Linked DNA regions of Homo sapiens. The gene in region 5 interacts genetically with the main gene of each other region. Each region holds a gene or a part of one and is shown on either strand. Other genes may lie near its edges.

The links.
Region 1: changes in CTBP1 (region 5) and TBL1XR1 together harm fitness less than expected from each alone (positive genetic interaction), as found in Homo sapiens cells (one large-scale study listed by BioGRID).
Region 2: changes in CTBP1 (region 5) and VPS51 together harm fitness less than expected from each alone (positive genetic interaction), as found in Homo sapiens cells (one large-scale study listed by BioGRID).
Region 3: changes in CTBP1 (region 5) and B3GNT2 together harm fitness less than expected from each alone (positive genetic interaction), as found in Homo sapiens cells (one large-scale study listed by BioGRID).
Region 4: changes in CTBP1 (region 5) and TRAPPC11 together harm fitness less than expected from each alone (positive genetic interaction), as found in Homo sapiens cells (one large-scale study listed by BioGRID).
Region 6: changes in CTBP1 (region 5) and DEPDC5 together harm fitness more than expected from each alone (negative genetic interaction), as found in Homo sapiens cells (one large-scale study listed by BioGRID).
Region 7: changes in CTBP1 (region 5) and RAB2A together harm fitness less than expected from each alone (positive genetic interaction), as found in Homo sapiens cells (one large-scale study listed by BioGRID).

What each region holds. Positions count from the first base shown.
Region 1 is NC_000003.12:177,033,455-177,037,865, forward strand, and holds part of TBL1XR1 (F-box-like/WD repeat-containing protein TBL1XR1), read right to left. Parts: intron 4,291-4,411; exon of another isoform or gene 3,951-4,290; intron 872-3,950; coding exon 744-871; intron 1-743. UniProt on the Homo sapiens protein: F-box-like protein involved in the recruitment of the ubiquitin/19S proteasome complex to nuclear receptor-regulated transcription units. Plays an essential role in transcription activation mediated by nuclear receptors.
Region 2 is NC_000011.10:65,098,614-65,103,024, reverse strand, and holds part of VPS51 (vacuolar protein sorting-associated protein 51 homolog), read right to left. Parts: intron 1-4,411. UniProt on the Homo sapiens protein: Acts as a component of the GARP complex that is involved in retrograde transport from early and late endosomes to the trans-Golgi network (TGN).
Region 3 is NC_000002.12:62,219,209-62,222,677, reverse strand, and holds part of B3GNT2 (N-acetyllactosaminide beta-1,3-N-acetylglucosaminyltransferase 2), read right to left. Parts: intron 467-3,469; 5' UTR 458-466; coding exon 1-457. UniProt on the Homo sapiens protein: Beta-1,3-N-acetylglucosaminyltransferase involved in the synthesis of poly-N-acetyllactosamine. Catalyzes the initiation and elongation of poly-N-acetyllactosamine chains. Shows a marked preference for Gal(beta1-4)Glc(NAc)-based acceptors.
Region 4 is NC_000004.12:183,661,837-183,666,247, reverse strand, and holds part of TRAPPC11 (trafficking protein particle complex subunit 11), read right to left. Parts: intron 2,402-4,411; 5' UTR 2,381-2,401; coding exon 2,177-2,380; intron 1-2,176. UniProt on the Homo sapiens protein: Involved in endoplasmic reticulum to Golgi apparatus trafficking at a very early stage.
Region 5 is NC_000004.12:1,238,817-1,243,227, forward strand, and holds part of CTBP1 (C-terminal-binding protein 1), read right to left. Parts: intron 2,704-4,411; 5' UTR 2,516-2,703; coding exon 2,509-2,515; intron 1-2,508. UniProt on the Homo sapiens protein: Corepressor targeting diverse transcription regulators such as GLIS2 or BCL6. Has dehydrogenase activity. Involved in controlling the equilibrium between tubular and stacked structures in the Golgi complex.
Region 6 is NC_000022.11:31,756,108-31,760,518, forward strand, and holds part of DEPDC5 (GATOR1 complex protein DEPDC5), read left to right. Parts: intron 1-2,438; coding exon 2,439-2,526; intron 2,527-4,411. UniProt on the Homo sapiens protein: As a component of the GATOR1 complex functions as an inhibitor of the amino acid-sensing branch of the mTORC1 pathway.
Region 7 is NC_000008.11:60,519,739-60,524,149, forward strand, and holds part of RAB2A (ras-related protein Rab-2A), read left to right. Parts: intron 1-4,411.

The DNA.
Region 1 (4,411 bases), on a different chromosome or scaffold from region 5:
AAATAATCCCTCTTTCGCATGGTTTTGAACACCAAAGTGACCACATTTTTCCATTTATCTTTTTTTTTTCTAAAGATACTGAAGATTTTGCTATGCCTCAATTGCTTGGATTTTAATCAGTATTTGGTATCAGTCAATATTTGATTATTTCAATATAGAATATCATTATAACTTGAAACAATAATAAAACTCAGTGTTTAAAGATTCCCCTTAAGGAACCGACGTAAGTGCCCATCAGCTAACAAGTGGATAAAGAAAATGTGGTATACATACACCATGGAATACTACTTAGCCATAAAAAGAAATAAAATATTGTCCTTTGCAGTGACTTGGATAGAGCTGGAGGCCATCATGCTAAGTGAAATAACTCGGGAATGGAAAACCAAATATCATGTTCTGACTTGTAAGTGGGAGCTAAGCTATGAGGACACAAAGGTATAAGAATGATATAATGAACTTTGTGGACTGGAGGTGGGAGTGGGGAGAAGGCTGAGAAGAGAGGTGAGGAATAAAAGACTACACACTGGGTACACTACACTGCTTGCAAAACCAGTGCACAGAAATCAGCACTAAAGAATTTATTCTTGTAGCCAAAAACCACCTATACACCAAAAACTACTGAAATTGGAAAAAAAAAAAAAAAAGTTTCCACTTCATGAAATCTTCCCTAAACTTCTGTCATATCTATTGGAAGTCTGATTTGTAGAAGACTCATAAAAGGAAAAATGAAACAGAAGTATCACCTTGCTAACATAAGGTTGGCATTTGGATTATTAGTCCCTGGTCCTGTTGGACTCCATTTGATAGTATAAATTTCTTTATTATGTGCTTGCAAATCATGGACACAATTGTCTTGTTTCATACTCCATATCTAAACAAAAAAGAAAAATGTATACAATTATTTTTCCATACAATGAGTATATTTAAAATATTATTTTGACACTTAAAATATTATATGGACAGTCTAAAACATGAGTGATATAACCAGAATGATGATAGAATATTTACAAAGAAACTGAAATGCAATAGGATATATTTAATATTTACATCTCTGTTTAAAAAAAAAAGTTAGCTTTAAGCCCTTTAAAAATATTCACTATTACAAAGTTTGAAGACTGAATTAACTATAGTTGTTCTGAGATTAGTTAACGATCCTAAAATGTTGAAGGCACAGTTTTTACACTGTCCCTTAAGCAAAAGATCTACATAATAAACTGCTCTTAGAATTTTAGAATCAGGAAAATTTTACAATGGAGAACTGAAAATAAATAACCAACTTATAAATAATGAGGACTCACAGAGAACCGTAAAAAGTAGCATAGGAAATAAAGCTCAAATGAAAAGTAGGAAAAAAAAAAAGTAGAAAAAAGTAGTCAAAGTAGAGAATAAGCCTTTCCTGAGATGAAAATATGCCTGTGTGTATAGATTTCAAGTGACTATTATTTTTGAGCAAAAATTCATAGAAATCAACACGAAGAGTATTTCTGGGAAAAAAAAAATCACTCAATAAAGACATGGTAGGTCCTGCAGTTATCTCCTTAACACATACACATACAACATGCCAAACCCAAGGAGGGCCAACCAAGAAAAAAATCAGCTCAACTTTACATTTCCGTGACATAACCATTAAAAGATAATGAAGCATCAGAGTGTTTTTGGTGCCCTATGTATTTACAACCCCAAGTAAAATAAATCTGAACGACATGTTTTCAGAACTGATTTCATTAGACCTTTCTAATTCATAGAATTTGATACTGTTGGCCACTCTCAACTCTTACCTCCCTTGAAATAAGTTTCCTCTACATACTTTCTTTTTCCACTTTCTCAGTCACCTTCTCAGTTTCCTTTGGAAAGCTCATCCCTCTTGATTTGGTGATTGTTAGAGTTTCTAAGACTCACTTTTTTAGGTCCCCTCTTTTCTTACTCTGTACTACCTACACAGTTTTGTCCCTGCCCCAATTTTTTTTTTTTTTTTTTGGAGATGAAGTCTCACTCTCTTGCCCAGGCTGGAGTGCAGCACCACAATCTTGGCTCACTGCAACTCCGTCCCCCGGGTTCACGCAATTCTCCTGCCTCAGCCTCCAGAGTAGCTGGGATTATAGGCACCTGCCGCCACGCTCGGCTAAATTTGGTATATTTAGCAGAGATGGGGTTTCACCATGTTGACCAGCCTGGTCTTGAACTCCTGACCTCAAGTGAACTGCCCACGTCGGCCTCCCAAAGTGCTTTAATTATAGGCATGAGCTGTGGCAACATGGGGGCACTAGCTGTGGGTGTCTGCCTGCAGACCCTGACCCAGCAATGGATGAATAAAGTACACTAACACACAGATATCCTGTTTCGCCAGTCCAGCTGAGGGTGTCCGAGCCATTTACAGACTCCCTGGAGAGTTCTGTAAACAGTTGCGACCATGGCCCTATCCGCTAGTGAGACTCAAATTTATTCAGTAAGATTAATTCACAAAGGCTTGAGTCAACACCATTAGAGGGTAACTGACATTGTGGACTTCCCAAGTAAAAAGCACTTAAGCACCCATGGCACATCAAAGGTTAGTCTTAATATTATATGAGTAAACAAGCTAGCTAGGTAAACTACCCTGCCTTCCTTTATTACTAGTTTAATTTGTTTAACTAAAGGTAAAGGAACCAGGCCGCGTTCAGCCAGATCTATTACTGAAGTTACTTCTCAGTTTTCCAAGAAGATATGTGTCTATTTCTATAACTATCTCTAATATTTTTCCCACCAGCCTGATTGAACCCCAACAGTGAACCACCAGGCCTGGCCATGCCCAAGGATTTTAAAGACCACCTATCTGCTGAGAATTCCCAGTTTTTAATCTTGAGCTTACAGTTCTCTAAGCATCAGTCCCACCTATCTCCTCCATTCGCATGACTCAGCGTCACCTTCTCATTCCATCTGGCATTCCCTCTTCTCAGAAAACGGCCCATTACACATTATCCATCCATCCTAGTTTTTGCTTTAAAATCCTTTGTGACATTTAAACATTCTTAGGATGAAGAAAAGCTCTCTAACAATTTCTAGTTTTAACCTCTCTCCAGCTTCAACTCAATATGTGGCACAAGGCCCTCTGGACACTGCCCTTCTGTCATTTCCTCATATGTGTCACACACAGTTCCAGAAGAAGTTTTTTTCATGTTATAAGCATTAATACGTGTGCACATAAGGAAAAGCCAAAGATGAAAGCATTAAGAAGAGTATTAATACTAGCAATTTTGTAAGGGAGCCCAGACTTAAGAAGAACTGTCTAAAAACATAGCAGATACTTAAAGGAGAAAACCTCACAAGTTTCGCAAAGTTAAATTTAATCTGTTCATAGTAGCAGGAAAATCAGTTTTCCCTCATGATTTTCATATCTGTAACGGTCATCACATCTGCAGTCCTTGGTACTGCAAAGTCAAGGATAAAACTGTTTTCAGTAGAGGGTTAGCTGTTGCAGGAGAGGGCTCAAAGCTTCATTTATTTTGGAAATAAGTATTACGTTGTTCTTTATCTCCAAATGCTTTTTTCCCCAAATGAGGAATCTGGTGTGCTTAGGTGCGAGACAGCAGTTTTGCTTTTAGTCATACAACAAGAAAAACAGAGATCCATGTTGAGATGTGGATGTTGGTATGTCAACTAGGCTCGCTCACTGAGAGATTCTCTGCTATGTATCAGTTTCCCAGCAATGGTGATACATAGTCATACCACAGCAAAATCAAATTAATACAACGCAAAGAATTCCAATCAAATCCATGAATGCTACAAAGATTTTGAGTACTTATTAAGTCAAATCTTTACATATGCAAATAAACTTTAATTGCAAATAAACTTTAATTGCCTCAACATATGACTTTCTAATGGTGAAGACAATTTATAGCATGACCTTTCTTACTATTGGTGATGTCTAATTTTATCTGTCTTCTTGACTGAGTCACAGGGTACAGATATTTGGTGAGACATTATTTCCGGCTGTGTCTGAGGGTGTTCCCAGTTGAGACAGGCATTTAACTTAGCTGACTGAGAAAAGCAGACTGCCACCCTCCCCAATGGGCGGCGGGGGGGGCATCACTCAGTCCAGTGAGGCTCTAAACAGAACAAAACCGCCAAGGAAGCAAGAATTCTCTGCCTCAGCCTGACTGCTGAGTTGGTATATTGGTCTTCTGCTCTTGGACTGGGACTTACACCATTGGCACTCCTTCTCTGGCCCTGGAATGGAACCACACCTCCATCTTTCATGGGTCTCCAGCTTGTAGACAGCAGACTGTGGGACTTCTCAGCCTCTATAATCACGTGAGTCAATTTCTCACAGTAAATCTCTCATCCATCCATCCATCCATCCATCCATCCATCCATCTTCTTATTGGTTCTGTTTCTCTGGAGAGCCCTAACTAATAGGGTATCATATGTCTCA
Region 2 (4,411 bases), on a different chromosome or scaffold from region 5:
GCGCCATCACACCCGGCTAATTTTTTAATTTTTGTTTAAATTTTGTGTAGAGATGGGGTCTCTCTATGTTGCCCAGGCTGGTCTCAAACTTCTGGGCTCAAGCAATGCTCCCACTTCAGCCTCCCAAAGTGCTGGGAGCACAGGAGTGAGCCACTGTGCCTGGCAAGAAAATTTTTCTTGCCAATTCATAGATGGTGAACTAAAGGACATAGCAAAGGCAGCGCTATGCAGTGAAAAACAATAAAAGCAGAGCCGAGGCTGAGGTTCGTAAAGGGATCATGGGCTACTGATCTAAGGGAGACAGACAGAGGCTTGGCAGTTGATGAGGCATTTGGTCTTCACCCAGTGAATTACTGGTTTTGTTTACAGGCCATGTGACACAATCTCCTTCCAGGTCTGCCAAAAGCTACCATGAAAAGAGCAGACTCTTTTGGTAGTGGGTGTTTGAGCCCATGACACTTAGGGGCTACCTCAAGAAGGAAGCTTGAATCCAACTTCTAAAGGGTAAAATCCAAACACTAAGTTGTTAGGAAAATAGAGTAAAAGAAAACCCAACAGTGCTGTGTGCTGTCATTGTCGCTGCCTTCCCAGCCATGGAGCCATTACACTGGAGATAAAAGTTGTACCATATCCAAAAACAACAGTGAAAGCATCCACACCATTCAGTCACAAAGACTACACTGTTTATCTTTGCATTTCAAGCTTGTTAAGAAAAGCAGGCTGGGCACAGTGGCTCACGCCTGTAACCCCAGCACTTTGGGAGGCCAAGGCAGGTGGATCACCTGAGGTCACCTGCCTGACCAACATGGTGAAATCCCGTCTCTACTGAAAATACAATAATTAGCCAAGTGTGGTGGCAGGTGCCTGTAATCCCAGGTACTTGGAAGCCTAAGACAGGAGAATCACTTGAACCCCGGAGGCGGAGGTTGCAGTGAGCCGATTGGGCCACTGCACTCTAGCCTGGATGACAGAGCAAGACTCTGTCTCAAAAAAAAAAAAAAAAAAAAGCTTGTTAAGAAAAGCAGTTTGTAACCAGGGAGAGTGAAAGCCATCTGGATGCGAGGATGTTGGCTACCTTGGGAGGGGACTGGGTGGTAACTGGTAGGAGGCTCAGGGGGCTTTGCTGGTTATGCTGTTTCCCGACCTGGATGCTGATTATGTGACTGTGCTCCCTTTGTGAAATCCATGGAGCTGTCCACTTATGTGCACTTTTCTGTATGTCTGTTAATTTTCTTTTTTTTTTTTTTTTTTTTTTTTTTTTTGAGACAAGGTCTGGCTCTGTCACCCAGGCTGGAGTGCAGTGACACAATCTTGGCTTACTGCAACCTCTGCCTCCCAGGTACAAGCCTTCCACCTCAGCTTCCTGAGCAGCTCGGACTACAGGGACACAACACCACACCCAGCTAATTTTTGTATTTTTTGTAGAGACAGGTATAACCTGTTGGCCAGGATGGTCTCGAACTCCTGAGCTCAAGCAATCTGCCTGCCTCTGCCTCACAAAGTGTTGGGATTATAGGTATGAGCCATAATCCCACCTGGGCTCTGTTAATTTTCAGTGAAATGTACTGTCAAAGACTGCTTTGTCTTTGCCTAGAGAAAAGAATTAGGAGAGGCTTTTCCCTGTATAATGTTTGAGATCTTTCTAATTTTGACACAAGTAAATGCATTATTACATAATGAAACTCAATGTCTAGGTGAGAGGTTGGCAAACTACAGCCTGCAGGCCAAATCTGGCTCAATGCCTGGTTTTCTTTTTAATTGGGATATAATTGACATACCAATTCAGTGGTTTTTAATATGTTTAATATATTCACAAGGTTGTACAACCAACCTCACTACGTAATTCCAGAACATTTCATCATCCCCTAAAGAAACCCTGTAACCCTTGGCAGTCATTCCTTATTCCCCCACTCCTAGAACTTGGCAACCATTAATCTAGTTTCTGTCTCTATGGATTTGTCTATTCGCTACAGAATACATTTAACAGAAATGGAATCATAGGCATATGAAACATTAGCATGTTTCCAAGGTTAATCTATGTTGTAGCCTGTGTCAGTATGTTATATCTATTTTTATGGCTGAATAATATTCCACTGTGTGGATATTTGTTTATATTCATTCAATTGATGGCCATTTGGATTGCTTCCACCTTGTGGCTATTATAAAAAGTGCTGCTATTGGCCAGGCATGGTGGCTCTTGCCTGTAATCCCAGTACTTTGGGAAGCCGAGGCAAGCGGATCACTTGAGGTCAGGAGTTCAAGACCAGCCTGGCCAACAAGGTGGAATCCCGTCTCTAGTAAATATACAAAAAATAAAAATAAAAAAATTAGGCGGGTGTGATGGTGCACACCTATAATCCCAGCTACTCAGGAGGCTGAGGCAGGAGAATCGCTTGAACTGGGGAGGCGGAGGTTACAGTGAGCCAAGATGGCACCACTGCACTCTAGCCTGGGTGACAGAGCTAGACTCCATCTCAAAAAAAAAAAAAAAAAAAAAAACACTGCTATGAACACTTGTGTACATGTTTTTATGTGAACATGTTTTCAATTCTCTTTGGTATATTCCTAGGAGTAAAATTGCCGATCATATGGTAATCTTGTGTGTGGTTTTGAAGAATGGTCAAACTGTCTTCCACACTGGGTGCAGCATTTTGTGGTTTGGATTTGCATTTCCCTAAGACCTAATGATGCTGAGCATATTTATATGTGCTTTTCGGCCACTTGTATGTTTTCTCTGGAGAAGTGTCTATTCAAATCCTTTGCCCATTTTAAATTAGGGTTATTTGTCTTTTTAGCCCTGAGCTAAAAAACGTTCTTTTTATGTTCTGAACACTAGATTTTTATTAGATAACTAACTTGCAAATATTTTCTCCCATTCTGTGGGCTGTCCTTTTATTATTATTTATTATTATTATTATTTTTGAGACGGAGTCTCGCTCTGTTGCCCAGGCTGGAGTGCAGTGGCGCGATCTCGACTCACTGCAACCTCCGCCTCCTGGGTTCAAGCGATTCTCCTGCCTCAGCCTCCTGAGTAGCTGGGACTACAGATGCCTGCCACCATGCCTGACTAATTTTTGTATTTTTAGTAGAGATGGGGTTTCACCATATTGGCCAGCCTGGTCTCAAATGCCTGACCTCAGATGATCCACCCGTCTCGGCCTCTCAGAGTGCTAAGATTATAGGCATAAGCCACCGCACCTGGCCTTTTTATTTATTTATTTATTTTTTGAGACTAGGTCTTGCTCTGTCACCCAGGCTAGAGTGCAATGGTGAGATTATAGCTCACTGCAATCTCCAGCTCCTGGGCTCATGTGATCCACCCACCTTAGCCTCCCCAAGTAGCTGGGTTTATTCTAACAAGTGTGTGCCACCATACCCAGCTATTTTTTTTTTTCTAGATATCGGGTCTCACTATGTTGCACAGGCTGGTCTCAAACTCCTGGGCTCAAGTGATCCTCCCACCTCAGCCTTCCAAAGTGCAGGGATTACAGGCATGAGCCACTGTGCTCAGCCCCATCCATTCCTGCCAGTGCAGCTGGAGGAATCTATTCAAACCAGAAATCTGAGCACATCACTCATTTGTTTTAGCTCTCTGTGGATAAAAGCCAAATCCCTAATACATTCTGGAAGGTTTCTAGTTAAACTGCACATCTACTATCTGCCTGGCTCTGCCCACATTCTGCTTCCCCTCCTGCTACCATAGATGAGCTCCCGGCCCTTTGCTGAGGCCGATGCCTCCATCCCTGCTCTGTTCCACCCCCCTCCTTCCTGAGGACCTAGTTCCTTTCTCATTTTTCTCTCTCTCTTGCCCAATCAACACACACTCCATGCTACATTACTTTCCTGAGTGTCTCGCCCAAGTCTATCAAATCTATGTCTTGAAACACCTTCCTCACGCAACCTCCACCTCCTGGGTTCAAGCAATTCTCCTGCCTCAGCCTCATGAGTAGCTTGGACTACAGGCATGCACCACCTTGCCCAGCTAATTTTTGTATTTTTAGTAGAGACAGGGTTTCACCATGTTGGCCAGGCTGGTCTTGAACTCCTAGCCTCAAGTGATCCACCCACCTCAGCCTCCCAAAGTGCTGGGATCACGGGTGAGAACCCCATGCCCGGCCCCTCACTTAAGCTTCTAAGACATCAATGCTCCTGGTTATCCTCACACTTTTCCAAACGTTTGTTCCTTTTGTGGGATGTACAAAAAGAGCTAAGTCTCAAAATATTATTATACACATTCCAACAAATGGAAAATGTAATCTTATTAAATTCCTGTGAGAAATATCCCAGCACAGAAACTATGATTTCTTGCCATTTTGATGCTGGTATTAGCTAACAGAAAGGTGCCTACTCATGGAATCTGCTTCAAATCAGATAAAAGAACAATGTGTATAGGTTACCACACCCACCACTG
Region 3 (3,469 bases), on a different chromosome or scaffold from region 5:
GAGTGAGGGACTTAATCGCCAGCAACAAGAAAGGTTTCTTTGCACACTTATCCGGCTGATCTATAAGCAGTGAATAATTGCGGCATCTCAAATACAGCAGAAAGTCTTTAAATCTGTCCGGCAAGTTGTTAAAACCCGTAACCACCGACGTGACCCTCAGGTCAGGTTCGCAGTAGTTCAGATGGCTTATATTGGAGAGCCTGCCCGCCTCCCCCGTCTGGTTGGTCAGCATGCTCAGGATGGGGTTGTACTGCCGGTTCAGCTTCTCTTGCTCTCGGTTCCAGTATGCCTCGGGAGGGGTAGATATCTTCCAGAACTTCTCTTTGGGTATTATTACTTCCCCTTTTCCATTTTTTTCTTGGCTACTGCTTTTGGAGACTTCCATAATAAAATAAATGAAGACATTTGCCATCATCAGGATACCCAACAACTTTATTCTTCGACGTCCAACACTCATTTCTCATATCTGGAATAAAGGGGTGGAGTATTGTATCAATTACTTATCAATTTGCATTTGCACATACAATTTATTTTACCTGTCTCCCCAGGAATAGTGGTTTACAGCAAAGACTCTACACTTGCACTGCCTAGGTTCAAATCTTGGCCCTTCCTTTCTAGCTTTGTGATCATGGGCAAGTGGGATAGTCCCTGTCTCAACTTCTCCATATATAAAATGGGAATCAAGCCCACTTCAAAGGATGGTTGTGAGTATATGATGTTATATGGAAAGCTTTTAAAATAGCGCGTGGCTCACAGCAAGCACTATGTAAGTGACTGTTTGAGACATGCTGAAGCTAGAAATACCTATTACTAAATAACCTCAGGAGAGTTCAACTTCCTTGCTTACAATGGCACATACAGTGCTTGGCAAACCGATTTGCCTAAATTATAACAAATACATTTTTATACTGTGTTTAGTATACACATACATACACAAAACTCTATTTACATGTGTGACGCATTGTGTGCAGTTCCATGTCATTCACTCTCAAGTTCTCTTCTATTTCATTTGAAAAACTTTGAGATTTTAAAATGTAGAAACAGGGACTGGTTACGTTGCTCAGGCTGGGCTCAAACTCCCAACCTAAGGTGATCCTCCCACCTCAGCCTCCCAAAGTGCTGGGATTATAGGCATGTCTGACCCTATCTCTCTCTCTTTTTTTTAATGTTAGTCCCAACCCTGAGTTATTTTCCAACCTACCATTTTACAGATAAGGAAACCAAAGCAGAGAGATTAAGACACTTGCCCAAGGTTGCAGGGCTAGGAAGCAGGAGACAGGAACCACAGAGCATCTCAGACAGAGAAAATGAAAGCAGACTCAGGACAGCTTTATCCCAATAGCCAAGAACTGGCAACAGCCCAATATCAACAGAACAGATGATCAAACTGTGGCATCTGCATACAATGGTATATCCCCTCGGCAATAGAAAGGGAAACTATTGTGGATGAAACATTACAACATTACATTGTGAATGAAGGCCAGACCCAAATTTTCATTTATATTAACTTCAAGAACAGGCAAAATGAATTTAGGTTCTAGAAATCTGAAAGTGATGGAGGTGGTGGGCTTAGAGAAGGATAGGAAGGAACTTCCTGGGGTACAGAAATGTACCATGTAGGTCTTGATCCTGATGAAGGCTCCACGGATGTATGCATATGTCAAACCTGAAGTGTATATTTAAGATCTCTATTGTTTGTAGCAAAAAGGGAAATACAAATGATATTTTAGTGAAATATCAAAAGATTTCAGGCTGTGGGCAATGGAAGAATAAAGAATGAGTAATGAGATGGTTTGCTGGGGATATCCAAGGTTCTAACACTATTGACATGGATGACCTATACAAGAATGAACATTTAAACCAAGGTGACATTAAAAGATAGCCCAAAAAAGTGGGATGGCAATGTTCTATAAAGAGCTGAAGATTTTCTTATCAGGTTAATTCAACTGGGAATTTATCCTTAGGTACTATTACTCATTCCCATTTTATACCTGAGGAGGTACACATTTAAAGAAGGGCAGACTGGAATACCAGCCAAGGCAAACAGATTCCAAGTCTGTACCATGCCAAAAGGTAGCTACACTTCTCCAATCCCTAAAAGAAAGCTTTGCAACTATTTTAATCTAGTATTTGCTTTTTGAAAGGAGAGGATTTTTAAGTTCACTGGATTCTAACAAACGGTAAAGTAGAAAAATATTTGTCATGCTGAGAATGCTGTAAAACTATTACATATTAGAGAGCCCAGATGAGATCAACAGGAATTCACAAGCTATTGTGTGTCTGTAAAGATCTGCCTAGTAGACCTTTATCTGGTTGCTTGTATTTACTACTGCTGAAACCACCTTTGCAAAGATTATGGACAGTAAGAAATCTAGCATGGCTGACTCCATCTTGCGTCTACCCTCACAGGCTAGCTGTCTCCACTCATTCCTGGGCATAGGCCAAGCTAACCACGGGAGAAATTTAGTTTACAGTTTAACTTCGAAGCAAAGATGGTAACAGTCCCTCCATAAAACTGATCCCTTCCTTGTTCAGGGGGCTGAGGCTAATGAAAGGTCACAAGATTAGGATTGAGAGGGGCCTGAATTCTGCTAAAATGTAAGCACAGTTTTTATAATCCCGTATTGCTCAGAAGTCATGTGGCCAGAGGCCACAAGATCTTTGACTTCCCCAAGTGCTCCTGTAGTTAACACCACTATTATAGAAACTAAGATTGGTCTTCTGAATGTTTCTCAGACTTACCCCACCCAGACTAGAGACTCATGACTCCCCCCAACCCCTGCAGACTCAGCACATGGCTTTGATTGCATCCACAGCCAATCAGCAGCACCCACTCCCTGGTCCCCTGCCCACAAAACTACTCTTGAAAAACCTAACCTCATACCTTTGGAGACTTCCGTGATAACTCCAGTTATTTCTCAAATACTTCTCAAAAAGAAAAGGTTCTCTCTAACTTGGGACAATTCTCCTAATGCTAAAGTGAGCCCTTGACCCAGTACTGCTGTCTCTAGGTCTCAGGCCCTTCCTAGTCTGGAAGGAAGGGCAACAGGAAATGTGTGATGGTGAAAAACTACAATGAAGAAAAAGATTTGCAAAGGGGCCAGGCAGAGTGACTCACGCCTGTAAACCCAGCACTTTGCTTTGGTAGGCCGAGGTGGGCAGATCACTTGAGGCCAGGAGTTTGAGACCAGCCTGGCCAACACAGCAAAACCCTGCCTCTACTAAAAATACAAAAAAGGCATGGTGGTGCACTCCTGTAGTCCAAGCTACTTGGGAGGCTGAGGTTGCAGTGAGCTGAGATCGTGCCACTGCACTCCAGCCTGGGTGACAGAGCAAAACTACTCAGGAAAAAACAGCACATACTATGAACAGCTTAATACCCGGCAAAAATTTAACTCAGTAAAGGGATTTAAACATTAATAGACCTTTACCAAAATTTCTGGAGTAAAAGAGGACAGCTTAGGGAAGA
Region 4 (4,411 bases), about 180 Mb from region 5:
TTGGCAGAAATTGAAAAGTTACCTGACAGGAGCAGAAACCACCTGTTACTGAGTGCCAAGCACTTTATGTGCATTGATCTCATTCAATATACACACCTCCCATTTTTGATTAGGAAACTCAGGCTTACAGATTCAGTAAGAACTAGTAAGTGTTGAAGGTGGAATCTCAACCCTGGAGAAGCTATACTTCCCATTTAAAGAATGACTGAAGCCAAAGAGTTTCTATCAGCCCCATAACTGAATGCATAAAACGATGATGCATGTCTAATGATGTCAAGGGTCTCAAATACTTTGCTAAAGAAAAAAAAAAAAAAAAAAGTAGCCCATTTCCAGGTAAATTCTACTTATATTCTTCACCATTCCAGCTTCTGTTCTTGTAAAACTGCTCAAATAAAATATTATCTAAAATCCAATAGGCTTTGTTTATTTCAAAGACATATTGCTGTGATGCATTTCACCTCACTTGTAGATGAAGTACAAAGCAGAGAACAATTCTTAAACAGAAGCTTCACAGCAGCCACTTGAGTCTGGGCACTGAGTGCCACAGAGTGGGAAGAGGATGCTGTAGATTTGAGTGTTAGCCCTGAGGGATGCAGTTGAAACCTCACATTCCTTCCAAATCAGCTGTGCTGGCTCAGACTACTCCACTTCATGGTGATCCAATGTCTACCTCCAGCAAGGAAAGATGAGGTCAATAAGGAAGTCTGACACAAAATAACATGGGGACTCAGCCAAAAGCTGGGAATAGAGAAATGAAAAGCAGCTTGAATTCGAGCATTAAGAGAAAAGAGGGCTTGTGCTGGGCTCCCTGCCTTCTTGACACAAACATGACACTAAAGAAAAATAATCATGTAGGCCTGGCACGGTGGCTCACGCCTGTAATCCCAGCACTTTGGGAGGCCAAGGTGGGCAGATCACGAGGTCAGGAGATCGAGACCATCCTGGCTAACACGGTGAAACCCCGTCTCTACTAAAAATACAGAAAATTAGCTGGACGTGGTGGCGGGCGCCTGTAGTCCCAGCCACTCGGGAGGCTGAAGCAGGAGAATGGCACGAACCCAGGAGGCGGAGCTTGCAGTGAGCCGATATCGCGCCACAGCACTCCAGCCTCGGGGACAGAGCGAGACTCCGTCTCAAAAAAAAAAAAAAAAAAAAAGAAAGAAAAGAAAAATAATCGTGTGAGGGCCAGGGCTGGGATGCTATTACTTGCACAATTTCAGAGAGCTCAGTTTCCAGGGCTGAGTATATGAAATGTTGTCGTGTGGTTCTCAAACACACACAAAAATAATCAGCCGGTGACCAAGTCCTATATTCCCAGAAACCAAAGAGGAGGGCTGCAATCTACATTTTTAATAAATACCCCAGGTTATGATGACATACTTGGTCCAGAGACTACTATGTCAGAGACACTGCTCTAGGGCAAAAGAAAAAAAAAGGATAGGGGTCAGAACTAAAAGGGTTTTATCACCTAACTTTCAAACCAACCTCATAAGATTATGATAAATAACAAATCACTACACATAAACTGCTTAAAACAGTAAACTGTTTTACTGTTTTTTTACAACTATGTTAGCTATTAGTGATACTATCATCATGATAATAATTATTATCTAAGGTAAAGTCGTCTTTACTATGTCGTTCACCTTAAAAGTCAGTTTTGAACTTAATACCTTTCTTCATTCCGCAATGAATAAACTGTGTTAGTTTATGTAAAACTCCTCAAGAATAGGGAACCTGTCTCACTTAAATTCGTATCACTAGCTTGTTGCATGGTTCCAGGTACCTATCACAAAGCAAGTGCTCAAAAAATCTGTGAAATTGAGCCACATTGCACAGACCATGGGATTCAAAAACGACATTAGTAATGATGGTGGGGAATGCAAGACCTTCCTTTTAGAGGGGACTATGTTGGGTTTTTTCCTAAAAACAAAAAAGGGAAAACCTGGGCTCATAGGATAGAAAGCTTTATAAAGTAATTATTCCTCTGGAGTTTAAAAAAAAAGAACTATTATTAAATATACATGCAGTGTATTACATGAAAATGCCTAAGGCTTTCTTTATGCACCACTGTGACCACTGTCTTGATAAACTCCACACACACAACAGAACAAAAAAGACACACACACACACATAGAGAGAGAGAAGGAAAGAACACATGCCATCACAATGCCATTACCTTGGGTCTACATTTGGGATACTCATGGTCACCTGGGAGCACCTTGAAAGAAATTGGTACTCGATCAGCTCTCCGATTTGCACAGAAGGCGTCCCAGACAGCTCGATGGACTGCATTATAAACTACATCCAGGCCCGTTAGAGTAACAAAGGCCATAGGCCGGCAACATAATTCCACAGGGAAGTCCCACTGTGTGGGGCTCATGTTTACGATGTCACAAAAAACCTGAAATACAAATGTTAATACATTCATAATTAATTTTTAAAAACTCATATTCATTTCTCCAGCCTGGGCAACAAGAGCAAAACTCTGTCTCAAAAAAAAAAAAAAAAAAACAACTCATATTCATTTCCAATATATGAATCTCTATTTAAAAATCATTACAAAAAAATAATCATTACAAGGCCAGGCATGGTGGCTCACGCATACAATCCCAACACTTTGGGAGGCCGAAGCAGGTGGATCACTGGAGGCCAGGAGTTAAAGACCAGCCTAGCCAACACAGTGAAACCTTGTCTCTACTAAAAATACAAAAAATTGGTTGGTCGTGGTGACTCACGCCTGTAATCCCAGCACTTTGGGAGGCCTAGGTGGGCAGATCACGAGGTCAGGAGATCGAGACCATCCTGGCTAACACGGTGAAACCCTGTCTCTACTAAATATCCAAAAAATTAGCCGGGCGTGGTGGTGGGCGCCTGTAGTCCCAGCTACTCAGGAGGCTGAGGCAGGAGAATGGCGTGAACCCGGGAGGTGGAGGTTGCAGTGAGCCAAGATGGCGCCACTGCACTCTAGCCTGGATGACAGAGGGAGACTCTGTCTCAAAAACAAAAAACAAAAAATTAGCTGGACATGGTGGCACACACCTGTAACCCCAACTACTTGGAGGCTGAGGCAGGAGAATCACTTGAACCCAGGAGGCGGAGGCTCCAGTGAGCCAAGATCACGGCACTCCACTCCAATCTGGGTGACAGAGTGAGACTCTGTCTCAAAAAAAATAAAATAAATAAAATAATCATTACAAAAAGGCAAAAGGCTTTGAGTATCTGCAAACTGTCAAACAAACAGAAGAGAGAAAAAGGGAAAACTTTAATTCCTGAATTAGATCTATTAAAATGTAATAACTATATGACATTTAAGAAAAAATCTTTCATGTTAAAAATGAAGTCAACTTTAAGACAAATCGGCATTTTCAGTAATGTCTCAAAATGCACACAGAACTTTGAAATTAGTAGACCAAGAAAGCAAGAAGGTGATAAAATTAAAATAGATCTACATGATCTATTTCAACTATAAAAGAAAAATATATTGAAAGAAAAATATAAAAGAAAAACAGTTGACTTACATATAATAAACTTCCCCTAATTTCTCTGTAATTGCTAATATTGAATTTCTGAATACCTAGGATATTATTAAAATAGCCTTTAATTTATGTAATTATCTAAATAGTAGCTATGTTGTCTCATTTCCCACAATATAAAATTTACTCTTTAAAGAAAAATCTGTAAGGGAAAAACTAACAATGAATGGAAACCTCTCGGAGGATGTTTCCACTGCGTCCTTTAGCTAAGAATCAGTCCATAATAAATCTAACGTATGCCCTGACTTTATAAGTATATAAAACTATGTTTATCCCGAACAAGACTGTCATTATATTTTTAATATAATCTTACTTGCAAAAGGATGTAACAACATGAGGTTCTTTTTTTTTTTTTTTTTTGAGACGGAGTATCACTCTGTCACCAGGCTGGAGTGCACTGGCCCAATATCAGCTCACTACAACCTCCACCTCCCGGGTTCAAGTGATTCCCCTGCCTCAGCCTCCCTAGTAGCTGGGACTACAGGCATGCACCACCACACCCAGCTAATTTTTTGTATTTTAGTGGACAGGGTTTCACCATGTTGGCCAGGATGGTCTTGATCTCGTGACCTCAGGCGATTGCCAGCCTTGGCCTCCCAAATGAGGTTCTTTTAAAAGATAATCTATACCAGCATATTACAGAGAATTCAGGTAAGGCACAAGTGGCTCATGCCTATAATCCCAGCACTTTTGGAGGACAAGGCCAGAGGATTGTTGAGGCCAGGAGTTCAAGACTGGCCTGGGAAACATAGTGAGATCCTGTCTCTAAAAGAAATAAAAAAGAAAATAGCCGGGCATGGTGGTGCTCACTTGTAGTCCCAGCCACTTGGGAGGCTGAGATGGGAGGATCACTTGAGTCTAGGTGTTTAAAGTTACAG
Region 5 (4,411 bases):
CCTCCCAGACCGTCCGAGACCCCAGGGCAGCTCCATGAGGCAGGGGGACAGGAGGGACCCAGGACACTGGAGGACACAAGATGACAGCACGGGACTTTGGGAACATGGTTGTCCCTTTCCTGCCTGGGCTACCGCGTGGCTGCCCGGAATCCCTGATGGGGTCACCAGTGTTTCACGTAGGACGCCCCCAACCCTCTGCCTGGCATTACTTCCAATTATAGATGTGAAGAGAAAAGAAACAGAACAAAGGAAGAAAAGGGTTAAAACCTGTTAAAGTCCACTCTGTGCCCCTGACCTTCCCAGAACCAGATGATTAAAGCTCATTAACACCCATTCCTTTCGCGTATGACGCAACTAAGCCTCATCGGGGCCAACTGGAGAAATAAGGGCTCTGAGGCGTCACAGAAGCATGGCAGCTTCCAGGCACCGCCCGACCGCCCCGTGCCAGGCAGGGAGCACCAGGTGGGGCCACTGTCAGCCCCACGGCAGCTGGGCAGAGGCGGAGCTGGGGCCAGGGCCCAGCCGGTCCCTCCCCTCCTCCTCCAAAGACCGGCCACAGGAGACCAAGCAGTACCCAGGACCGTTCGGCCAGCAGGAGGGGAGGCGCACGACAGAACCAAGGAGCAGAGTGACCCAGCAGGCTCTCCAGTGGCCGCGGCCACAAGCACGCTCGGCCCAGTCTCCCGCCCCATCCGCTGCCCCATCCGCCTGCAGGTGAGCAGAGGCCACCGAGCTGCCAGTATCCAGGAAGCAGGGAAGTGCCTCCTGGAACCCATGGCAGAGAAAAGAAATGCTCTGGTGGACAGCCCAGGGGTGCAGTGGGCCTGCAGCACACGCCTGCAGGGGACGGGGCATGGGTCTCCACTGACCACCCCAAAGCCGAGGGCTCCCAGTACGGCTGGGCCCATGCCCCTCCCGTGAGGTCCTCGCGCCCTGGCGTCCTCGGAGGAGCCACTGGCCATTCCACCCACTTTCCTTCAAGATAGGAAACCAGATCCCAAACGTGAGGTCTGCACGGTCAAAACCGCGTCCTGGTTCGCCTGTTCCTTCATTCCCTCTGGACGGGAGCTGCCCACGAGCACCATAGACAGGCCGCCCAGTGACACTGTACATGGCCTCCCTCTGCACGTGGCCTCCCTCCCCGCTGTGTGTGGTGGTGATGACTTCTCATGAGCAGAAAGGTTTATGTTGCTGTTTCTGAGTGAGTGGATAGACATCCGCTCTCAGTATCCTTGGATTTCACTTCTGATGAGGAAGGCATGGACACACGGGATCACTGCAGACCGCTCGGCTGCGTCAGAACCGCCTGGGGGGACTCCTGGGTGCTGGGTGAGTGGGAACCGGGTCCCTCGTCAGAACCGCGTGGGGGACTCCCGGGTGCTGGGTGAGTGGGAACCGGGTCCCTCGTCGGAACCGTGTGGGGCACTCCCGGGTGCTGGGTGAGTGGGACCGGGTCCCTCGTCGGAACCGCCTGGGGGGACTCCCGGGTGCTGGGTGAGTGGGAACCGGGTCCCTCGTCGGAACCGCGTGGGGGACTCCCGGGTGCTGGGTGAGTGGGAACCGGGTCCCTCGTCGGAACCGCGTGGGGGACTCCCGGGTGCTGGGTGAGTGGGAACCGGGTCCCTCGTCGGAACCGCGTGGGGGACTCCCGGGTGCTGGGTGAGTGGGAACCGGGTCCCTCGTCGGAACCGCGTGGGGGACTCCCGGGTGCTGGGTGAGTGGGAACCGGGTCCCTCGTCGGAACCGCGTGGGGGACTCCCGGGTGCTGGGTGAGTGGGAACCGGGTCCCTCGTCGGAACCGCGTGGGGGACTCCCGGGTGCTGGGTGAGTGGGAACCGGGTCCCTCAGCTGAACGGTGGGGAGGGGGGAGCAGGTGGAGACACCAAGCCCCATCAGGCTCAGGCACCCAAGGTGCCTCCTCACATCACCCATGAGCTGCCCCTGACCACCGTGCCAGGGTTCCCCGGACAGCCCACCCTTGCAGGCTTGGGGACACACCCAGGAGGCTTCACAGTCACACGGCCTGTGCTGAAGCAGGCTTTGCAGCATCCCCCAAGCCCAAGGCTGTTTCCGACTGCACGCACTTCCGGGCCAGAGAGCGCAGACCAACCACAAGGAACAGCTCCACAGGGGCCACGGCCCTGCTCCTGGGCCAGCCGGGTGGACACCTGAGATTTCCAGGGTTCCGTGTGGGGCTCCACCCTCGTGCTGGCGGCCTCCACATGGAGGCCCTCCGTGCCTCTCAGACACTTTCCGACAGAAACAGACAGCAGATGCCACGGACAGGCCTGACCACAGCTGTGCTCTGCCACCAGGTGTGCAGGAAGCCCTCCCTCGAGGGGCACCTGACCTCGCCCAGAGCACACCGGGGGTCAGGTGGCAGCAGTCCGGCCCGACGCCCATGCAGCCCAGGTCCCTCGACTTGATCCGAGGCAGTGCCTCCTCCACACGGTCGCAAAGAGACCGGCCGGCTTCACTCTGCCGCCGACGCCAGGAACCCCTACCAACCTGACATCTCTTAATATGGGCTCAGCTTCCACGACCATGAATTCGACTTTTCAAAGCTTTTTATCTTCAGGATCCCCAGGCAGAACCGCGTCCTGTCTCGGAGCCTCATCCCACGTCCTTAATTGTCTCGAGCCAAAGTGCTCAGGCTTCTGATCCGCGGCAATCACTGAAGCCTGCGTCGGGGTCAAAGTCTTACTAAAAATCAAACACAAGAGACACATTAAAATGCCATCGAAGGTCCGACCAGAACTCACAGACTCCAGGGAACGCCTCAGAAGTGGACCTCACTGCATCTGCCACACCCGGGACTGCTGTCTGGGACCTACCTGGACTCGGGGGCCTGCTGACAGCCAGGGGCCCCGGCTCCTGCCGCACACACGAAGGGCGCTCACCCTGAGGTTGCAGTGCCAGGCCCGAGGCCGCGCCCCTGTGGCCCCGAGGCCTACTCCTGGGAACAGTCCCCCAGGGCTGCGGCCACCCCCACAGGCTCTAGCCGCATCCAGATGTCCCCAGTGTCCAAGAACCAGGGGACGGAGGGCACAGGGTGTGTGCTGTGGGCAGGGAAACTGCGGAAAGGCTCTGCCTCCTGTTCTGGAAGCTTCTATCTCATGTCACTGATTCCCGGGCCTCTGTGACCAGGCAAGGACGTGGAACTTCCCAGGAGCCACCGGGAGAGGTGCTGCTGGCTTTCCAGCATCCAGCCTGGCACTGCCTGCACTGAGCCGCGCCGGCTCCACCTCCGACCCTCAGTGCATCCTGGCGACGCTCCCTCAATTCTCCCAAAAAAACTGCTCAGCTCTTCCTGACCGCTACGGCCAGGGCCTGGCGGGAAGCTGAGGGCACGAACCCCAGTGGCTGAATGCACAGGGGCAGGGGGCCCCTGAGAGGGCCAAGCCTTCCAGTAGAGGCTTGAGAGTGCACACGATCGCCCAGCCCTCGGGAGGGTGTCACTGAGCTGCCCACACCTGGCCCCTGCTCTGGCATGAAGACACAGCACCGAGGCTGACCCCAACGTGCAGCTGACATCAGGCTGACCAGGACAGGAGCCGGCCACCACCAGCCCAGCAGCATGGCAGGCGTGGGCTGAGACGACTGCCTGCCAGGCCAGAAGGGGCCACTCAGCCAAGCCTAAGACCCTGGTAGTGTGCTGTGAGGCCGCCCCTGCGCAGAGGCCTCGCAGACAAATCTCCAACCCTCAACTCCCTCTGCAGGATTCAAGCATACATGCCGACCATCTCCAGCTTCCAGAGACACCATCACAGGGGCTGGGGTGCAGCCCCACGCACGCACCTCCCATCCAGGGTCCCCAACACCACTCCTCATGGCAGGTGCTGTGTGGGACTCCCTGACGGAGGGCCCAAGAGCAACACTGTGGAGCGGGATCCCCATCACCTGCGCCTGAGCCCCCATGACCTGCGCTGCAGCCTCCTGCCCTGAATGCCAGATCTCCCCATGGTACCCGGATACCACATAAAAACAAACTAAAAGGACAGGAGAAAACCGCCTAAATGTCACATTTCACCCACGAGCCAGCCTGGCCAGGGGGCAAGGCACCGCGCCACCCACGCCCAGCCAAACTCATCAATGCCAGCCGATACTCATCAACGCCAGCCGATACTCATCAATGCCAGCCGATACTCATCAACGCCAACCGATACTCATCAATGCCAGCCAATACTCATCAATACTGGCCAAACTCATTGATACGGGCCAATACTCATTGATACCGGCTGATACTCATTGATACCAGTCAATACTCATCAATGCTACCCACGGTGGCCCAGTACCGGCTGCTGCTCGTCAAGACCGGCCAATACTCAATACTGCCCACAGCAGCATGGCACCAGCCGCTGCTCCTGGAGGATCATCGATACCCATCAATGCTGCTCAATGCTTATCTATA
Region 6 (4,411 bases), on a different chromosome or scaffold from region 5:
CCTGAGCTCAGGCAATCCGCCCACCTTAGCCTCCCAAAGTGCTAGGATTACAGGCAAGAGCCACCGCGCTGGCATGAGTCTTTTTAACATTGTATTTTAGGGTGTATTTACTTCTACATTATGTAGGTATAAGCCTCCAGAGGGGAAGGACTGCCAAAAAGGGAAAACAATAGTTTCTCTATCATAGAGCATTGTGAGGCTTAAGTAAAGTGATACATGTAATGCATTTAGCAGAGTGTTAGACTCTGTGCTCAATAAATGTAGCCATTGTAATTACCAGGCTACAGGCATTGCTATATTTAAACTACAATTTCTGCTAAAATGCACAGTCTATTGTTATTACTTTGATGCTGTTGATGTTGCCTAAATATTTGTGGAGTGGAATAAAGCAAATAACTTTTGGCAGAGAAAAGAATACAAGGATACAGTATATACAACGTATACAAATACATGTTTTTATGTATAAAATACAAAGGTAGTTAGATGCTGTATCCAGTCTTCTGCAAGACTATAGGTCAAAATACAACTAACAGCTGGACATGGTAGCTCATGACTGTAATCCTGGCATTTTGGAAGGTCAAGGTGGGCAGATCACATGAGGTCAGGAGTTCAGGACCAGCCTGGCCAACATAGTGAAACCCCATCTCTACTAAAAATACAAAAATTAGCCAGGTGTGGTGGTGCGTGCCTGTAATCTCAGCTACTAGGGAGGCTGAGGCACGAGAATTGCTTGAACCCAGGAGGCAGAGGTTGCAGTGAGCCGAGATCATGCCACTACACTCCAGCCTGGGCAATAGAGCAAGACCCTGTCTTTAAAAAAATAAAAAATAATAAAAAAAAAAGAAACAACCAACAGATATTTATTAGGTGTATACCTGTGCCAGACGTAATGATTATGAATGCCACAAGGTTCTTTGTCCCTAAAGAGTTTTCAGTTTGGTAAGATAGACATGCAAAAAGGAAATGATAAAACCAAGCAGAAGGGGATATGTTCTCAGGGACCTTAATTCAGACTATGTAAATTAGGGAGGAAGCTCCAAAGAGCATTTGTCGTGAAACTGTCAGTGGAAACATAGCAAATAAAATTAGGGATTGCTGGGTGCAGTGGTGTATGCCTGTAGTCACAGCTACTCAAGAGGCTGGGACAGGAGGATCACTTGGGCCCAGGAGTTCCAGACTATAGTACATTATGCTGATTGGGTGTCTGCACTAAGTTCTGCATCAATATAGTGACCTCCCAGGAGTGGGGGACCACCAGCTTGCCTTAGGAAGTGTGAACCACCTCAGGTTGGGAACAGAGCAGGTCAAAACTCCTGTGCTGATCAGCAGTGGGATTGTCCCTGTAAATAGCCACTGTACGCCAGCCTAGGCAACAGCAAGACCTTATCTCTAAAAGAAAACAAAAAAATTTGGGAGTAAGCCAATGTTTCATTTTACTAGGCTAAATTTTTGTTGGGTCTGATTATATTTGAAATCTAGATAAACTTAATTGTCATGATATTAGCATAATTAAAGGTGATGTCTTTCCTTGCAAATTAAAACAGCAAAACAGTCATTCTGTCTTTATGCTTCTGAGTTTGCAATATTTGATAGAGTTCTCCCCATCCCTAGTAGAGGGGCAGGGGTAGATAAACATGAAACCACATCCCTCTTATTTTATTTATTTATTTTTTTGAGATGCAGTCTCTTTCTGTCACTCAGGCTGGAGTGCAGTGGTGTGATTTCGGCTCACTGTAACCTCTGCCTCCCGGGTTCAAGTGATTCTCCTGCCTCAGGCTCCCAAGTAGCTGGGATTACAGGCTCCCACCACCACACCTGGCTAATTTTTGTATTTTTAGTAGAGACGGGGTTTCGCCATGTTCGCCAGGCTGGTCTTGAACTCCTGACCTCAGGTGATCTGTCCATCTCGGCCTCTCAAAGTATTGGGATTACAGGCATGAGCCACTGCTCCTGGACTCTCTGAGGTTATTTTCTTACTCCTGTTAGATCTAAAGATTTATTGTGACGGTCACATTAAGACACTGTTTGGGAAATTCTTTGAACATTGAATAACTGTAACGAATTGTGCTGTATCTGTGGGAACCAGCCTGTTTTGTTCCTGTTATATGCCAGATACACAATATTTGAGGGGGTAAAAGGCTGTCCAGAAGCCTAATTCCCAGATACTAAGGGCTGCTCTGCCCCTGGAAGCAGTGCGGTAGTAGAAAGGGCACAGGGTATGGAGACAAAGGTACCTGAGCGCCATCCCACTCTGCTGCTGTGTAGCTTGGTGTTCCTGTGTGAATCCATTAGTCATTGTAAGCCTCGTTTCAAAATAGAACCTCATCTGTCAATGGGGTGGCAATACCATCCTGATGGGGTTGTGAGGAACCAGTATGAGAACATACAGTGTACCTAATGAGTGTTTTTCTACTTGAAGTGGCTGAATTGTCTTTCAGATGATGAGCTAGTTGTGAACCCCAAAGTGTTCCCTCACATCAAGCTTGGAGACATTGTAGAGATTGCACACCCCAACGATGAATACAGGTGAGTGTCTCATAGGATCCATGGAACTGGGCAATTCACTGTTTCCAAATGATGTCCAAGGCAGATAGCTCTCTTTGCCTTTCAAAATGCTCATGCTGTGATGGCTCAATCCTGTAATTCCAGCACTTTGGGAGGCTGAGGTGGGTAGGTCATTTGAGCCCGGGAGTTCGAGACCAGCCTGGGCAACATAGAGGGACCCTGTCTTAAAAAAAAATGATCATGCCTTCTAGGATTTGATCAACAAATAATTTTTCAAAAGTGGTCCATTCCTTCGTTTTTTTTTTTTTGAGATGGAGTCTAGCTCTGTCACCCAGGCTAGAGTGCAGTTGTGTAATCTCAGCTCACTGCAACCTCTGCCTCCCAGCCCCAAGTGATTGTCCTGCCTCAGCCTCCTGAGTAGCTGAGATTACAGGCTCAGCCTCCCGAGTAGCTGAGATTACAGGCATGCGCCATCACGCCCAGCTAATTTTGCATTTTTGGTAGAGACAGGGTTTCACCATGTTGCCCAGGCTGGTCTTGAACTCCTGACCTCAGGTAATCCACTGGCCTTGGCCTCCCAATGTGCTGGGATTACAGGTATGAGGCACCGCACCTGGCCTAATTTTTGTGTTTTTTAGTAGAGATGGGGTTTCACCATATTGTCCAGGCTTGTCTCAAGTCATCCATCCTGCTAGGCCTCCCAAAGTGCTGAGATTACAGGCATGAGCCACCATACCGAGCCGTTTTTTTTGTTTTTTTTGTTTTTTTTTGTTTTTTTTGAGATGAAATCTCACTCTGTCACCCAGGCTGAAGTGCAGTGGTGGGATCTTGGCTCACTGCAATCTCTGTCTTCCGGGTTCAAGCCATTCTCCTGCCTCAGCCTCCTGAGTAGCTGGGATTACAGGCGCGTGCCACCATGCTTGGCTAATTTTTGTATTTTTAGTAGAGACGGGGTTTCACCATGTTGGTCAGGCTGGTTTCGAACTCCTGACCTCGTGATCCGCCTGCCTTGGCCTCTTAAAGTGCTAGGATTACAGGCATGAGCTACCTTGCCGCGCCCAGCCTTTTTTTTTTTTTTTTTTTTTTAAGAGACAGAGTCTCGCTCTGTCACCCAGGCTGGAGTGCAGTGGTGCCACCTCGGCTCACTGCAACCTCTGCCTCCTGGGTTCAAGTGACTCTTCTGCCTCAGCCTGTCGAGTAGCTGGAACTACAGGTGTGGGCCACCACACCTGGCTAATTTTTGTATTTTTAATAGAGACAGGGTTTCGTCATGTTGGCCAGGCTGGTCTCGAACTCCTGACCTCAGGTGATCCACCTGCCTTGGCCTCCCAAAGTGTTGGGATTATAGGCATGAGCCACCGAGCCCAGCCTCTTTCTGGTTTTAAAGCTGAGATGACAACTGAAAGGTTCTGTAGCATTTGTCCATTTCCTTTAGTGCGTATGGAGTTTCTTTGTTTCTTTTTTTTTTTTTGTGAGACGGAGTCTTGCTCTGTCGCCCAGGCTGGAGTGCAGTGGCACAATCTTGGCTCACTGCAAGCTCCACCTCCCGGGTTCACGCCATTCTCCTGCCTCAGCCTCCCAAGTAGCTGGGACTACAGGCGCCCACCACTATGCCCGGCTAATTTTTTTGTATTTTTAGGAGAGACGGGGTTTCACTGTGTTAGCCAGGATGGTCTCGATCTCCTGACCTCATGATCCGCCCGTCTCGGCCTCCCAAAGTGCTGGGATTACAGGCATGAGCCACCACACCCGGCCTAATTTTTTCTATTTTTTAGTAGAGAAGGGGTTTCACCGTGTTAGCCAGGATGGTCTCGATCTCCTGACCTCGTGGTCCACCTGCCTCGGCCTCCCAAAGTGCTGGGATTACAGGCGTGAGCCACCGCACCTGGCCGAGTTTCTTTGTTTC
Region 7 (4,411 bases), on a different chromosome or scaffold from region 5:
TAGAAGGTAGGCCCTGTATATTTAACTAATAAGAGAGGAGCCAAACAGGCTACTATATTCCTGTTTGTATATATTAATAACTTAACAGAAGTGGTGTCGTTGTTGTTGTTGTTGTTGCCCAGTTCTGCCACCTTCTTGCTTACTAATTTGGGCAAAATCCTTTACCATATTTCTTTAATGCAGAGTGTACCCATAGTTGTAAGATACACTCAGTGTGGCCCTCCCCTAGAAAAGATGACTTTAAAATCAGTAATGTGAGATCCACTTTGATTTTTTAAAAAGTCAGGGTCAAAAACATGCATCTTAGAATGAAGGAAATCACCTAATTTTTCTGTTTCCCTGTTTCCGTAACCTATAACCTTCTCTCAGTATGTGGGATAAAATGAGGATAAATGTGAAAGTACTTTGATTTCTCAAAGGAAAGGAACAATGCACATTTTTCCTTTTCAGAATTCCCTCTTTAATAGAAGAGGTTTTAAAAACTTTTACATGATCATGATGATACTATTGAGCTGTTTTCTTACTGTAAGACTAAATGCAGTTAAAATGTAGCTTTAAATTTTTTCCTTGTTCCTGTCTTGTTTCTGAATCATTTAGTAAAATGTGTCATTTAAATCTAGATGTAAAGTGGAAAGTGGTTTTTAATAAGCAGTTAATTATCAAGCATGGAGAGAAAAAATACGAATCTATAGTAATTTTTCTTCTGAAATTCTAGCATCTGCCAACCATTTTAACCTTATCACTAACCCTCCCTGCTGCTCAACGCTCAGCAAGGTAAACAAAGGCACAGGTTTGGTTGTGTTCTTATTTCTGCTAATATCTGAAGCACTCCTTCTTGTTCTTCCCTATCAAAAAAAGTTATGTCAAAAATTTTTGTCACCTGGCCAACTCCTTTTTATCCATTCTTTTGAGAGTTTAACAAATCCTACCACTCCCTGTTGCATTTTATGCTGGTCCCCTCCTCTCTTCCCTCATTCTGTTTCCCTTCTCTTCAGTCCCAGTCCCACTTACATTTTATTTTTTATTTTTCACTCTTATGTATATACCCACCACTTCCATTTTATTTTATTTTACTTATATTATTTATCTATCTATTGAGACATGATCTCTGTTGCCCAGGCAGGAGTGCAGTGGCACTATCACGGCTCACTCACTACAGCTTCAGTCTCCTGGGCCTAAGCAATCCTCCCACCTAAGTCTTCCAAGTAGCTGGGAACACAGGCACATGCCACCATGCCTGGCTAATTTTTAAATTTTTGTAGAGATGGGCTCTCACTGTGTTGCTCAGGCTGGTCTCAAACTCCTGGGCTTAAGCCATCCTCCCACTTCAGCCTCCCAAAGTGCCAGATTACAAGCACAAGCCACAGCTCTCAGCCCCACTTGCATTTTAAATTATCTTTTTAGTTAGGAAGGTCTTTGCCTTTGTCTTAGATGCCAGGGTACACCATTGAGTGTCAGATTTATTTAATAGTTAAGTGGATGGATCCTTGAGGGGAGGCACTAGGTGATGTTTCAGCTGAAATTAGAATGATGAGTAGGCACCGCCAGAGTGGGCATGGGGGAATGTCTGGTATGTAGTTGAAAGTTTATTTCTGGCTCAGGAGAGAGTAATCTGGGATAGAGACTTGGGAGCTAATAACATAAAATGGAGTCCCTATTACCTGAGAGTTCATTTTCTGAGCTTTTGAAATTACAAGGTTATGTAGGGAAGAAAAATTCTCATGATATGAAAATAATTATTAATAAGTTATCACCTTAAAAAATTAACTACTCAAGCTTACTTCTAATTCCCATCCTCCTGATTGGCGTAGGGGCTTGCTGATCATAATATAGTTCAAATTAGTTGCAAAGTGAAATTATGTATCATGCTAAAATTGCAAGCATTTGTTTCTTTTTTTTGAGATGGAGTTTTGCTCTTGTCACCCAGGCTGGAGTGCAGTGGCGCCATCTGGGTTCACTGCAACCTCCACCTCTTAGGTTCAAGCGATTCTCCTGCCTCAGCCTCCCCAGTAGCTGGGATTACAGGCGTCTGCCCCCACGCCCAGCTGATTTTTGTATTTTTAGTAGAGATGGAGTTTTGCCATGTTGGTCTGACTGGGTCTCGAACTCCTGACCTCAGGTGGTCCACTCACCTCGGCCTCCTTAAGTGCTGGGATTACAGGTGTGAGCCACCGCGGCAAGGCAGCATTTGTTTCTTTGATGCAAGTGATTTGGAGCATTGGTTCACATGCAAAACCATTGACAAATGGGGATCTGACAAAGTTGTCCTCCTGGAATGAAGTAGGTGGTGATTGTTCATTGAATGAATTGACAGATGAAAGCTTGGATGTAATGGTGGGAAATACTAGTGTTCATGGGGCACATGGGGAAAGTTATCAGCATAGTAGGCTAACAAGGAATAATCAAAAGAGCAAGAGAGACCTGGGCAGTACAGTGTCATGGAATCTGCAGAGAAGGCAGATCCCAGAGAGGGAGTGGTTACCAGTGTCATGTGCAGTAGAGGTCAGGGACTATTGGTTGAAATGGTAGGAAGACATTAGTGCTTTGACACAGTGTTTGATTCAGATGTCAGTGAGGGGGAGAACTAAGGTGTATTTTCATTTATGTTGTTAAAAAACTGTGGATTTTTATATATGTGTAAATAAAAAAAGTCCCAAGACTACACACTTAACCGTTACTTCTGGGGAGGAGAGTAGAATTATATGCTTATATTGATTACACTGAAAGAGTTGGTGTTGGTGAAATGGGGCTTTTTATATTGTAGGGTCCTCCTACTTTCTTTTTTAAAAAAAAATTTAAACAATATCACACATAGTATTGGTGGTTTTACAAAAAGAGTTATTGGGAAGTTACAAGTAGAACCATGCATGGGTTATTTTATTGAAGAATAAATGTGAGTGTGTGTTTGTATTTTAAGATAGGAGAGACTTGAGGTTGAAAGGTTAAATACAAGAGAAGGGGAGGTAAGGAGCAAAGTTGTAGAGGATTTGGGGAAGGATTGGGGAAGGAAGGGGATTAGATTCTCAATAGCTCTAGAGAAAAACAGAAGGAAGACCTCTTCCTGTGGGAGACTCAAATTTGAGTTTCTTTAGATTCTTGTGAATCACTGGAGTGTTTGTTTAAAAAAAAAAATATTCAGCAGCCCAACCCCTAGAGATTTTGATTGACTAGATTTGAGGTGGAGCTGAATGTTGCAAAACCTGCGGCCAGAAGTACTAGTCATTTTATTTTATTATATAAGCAGATTTGTTAGAATTACCTTCAAAAAACAACCTGGGAAGTTCAGAGGTAGAAAAATTCTATTAAAGCTTTTTTATTGAGATGTAGCATGCATATAAAAGAATATATAAAATACATATACACAGTTTAATAGTTTTAAAGAATAATGATAAACACCCATGCAAAAGGACTCCACATTCTTTTTCTTTTTTTTTTTTTCTTGAGACAGTCTCGCTGTCACCCAGGCTGGAGTGCAGTGGCGCAATCTCAGCTCACTGCAACTTCTGCCTCCTGGATTCACGCCATTCTCCTGCCTCAGCCTCCCGAATAGCTGGGACTACAGGCGCCCGCCACCACGCCCGGCTAATTTTTTGTATTTTTAGTGAAGACGGGCTTTCACTGTGTTAGCCAGGATTGTCTTGATCTCCTGACCTCGTGATCCGCCCGCCTCTGCCTCCCAAAATGCTGGGATTACAGGCATGAGCCACCACGCCCGGCCAAGGACTCCACATTCTTACATATGTCTCTTTCTCAACCAGTTTTCCACTGGCCTGAATTTTATATTAATCCTCCCCTGCTTTTCTTCATAGTTGTATCACTTATGGATTCCTAAACTGTATTATTTAGTTTTGCCCATTTTTAGATGTGCTTAGCTGTTTCATTTATCAAATGAGAGCTGAAACATATCTTTTAACATCATTTACAATTTAGATGATATACTTTTGTTAACCTTCATTTTTTTTTTTTTTTTTGAGACAAGTCTCGCTTTGTCGCCCAGGCTAGAGTGCAGTGGCGCGATCTCGGCTCACTGCAAGCTCCGTCTCCCGGGTTCACACCATTCTCCTGCCTCAGCCTCCCAAGTAGCTGGGACTACAGGCGCCCATGACCATGCCTGGCTAATTTTTTGTGTTTTTAGTAGAGACGGGGTTTCACCATGTTAGCCAGGATAGTCTCGATCTCCTGACCTCGTGATCCGCCTGCCTCGGCCTCCAAATTTTTGCTTTATATATATTATTGGTAGTCTTTCAGGATTTTTGACTAGCTCTTTTCTGTCTGTTTTCTAACCCAGTTTATTTACTACTTCCTCCCCCTAATATTTATACCGTGCCTGAGACTTTATAGTGAATCATAGAGGCTATTGTCCCTGTTGTTCTCATTCCTTTTTACCTTTCTTAAACTCCTCTGGTGACTC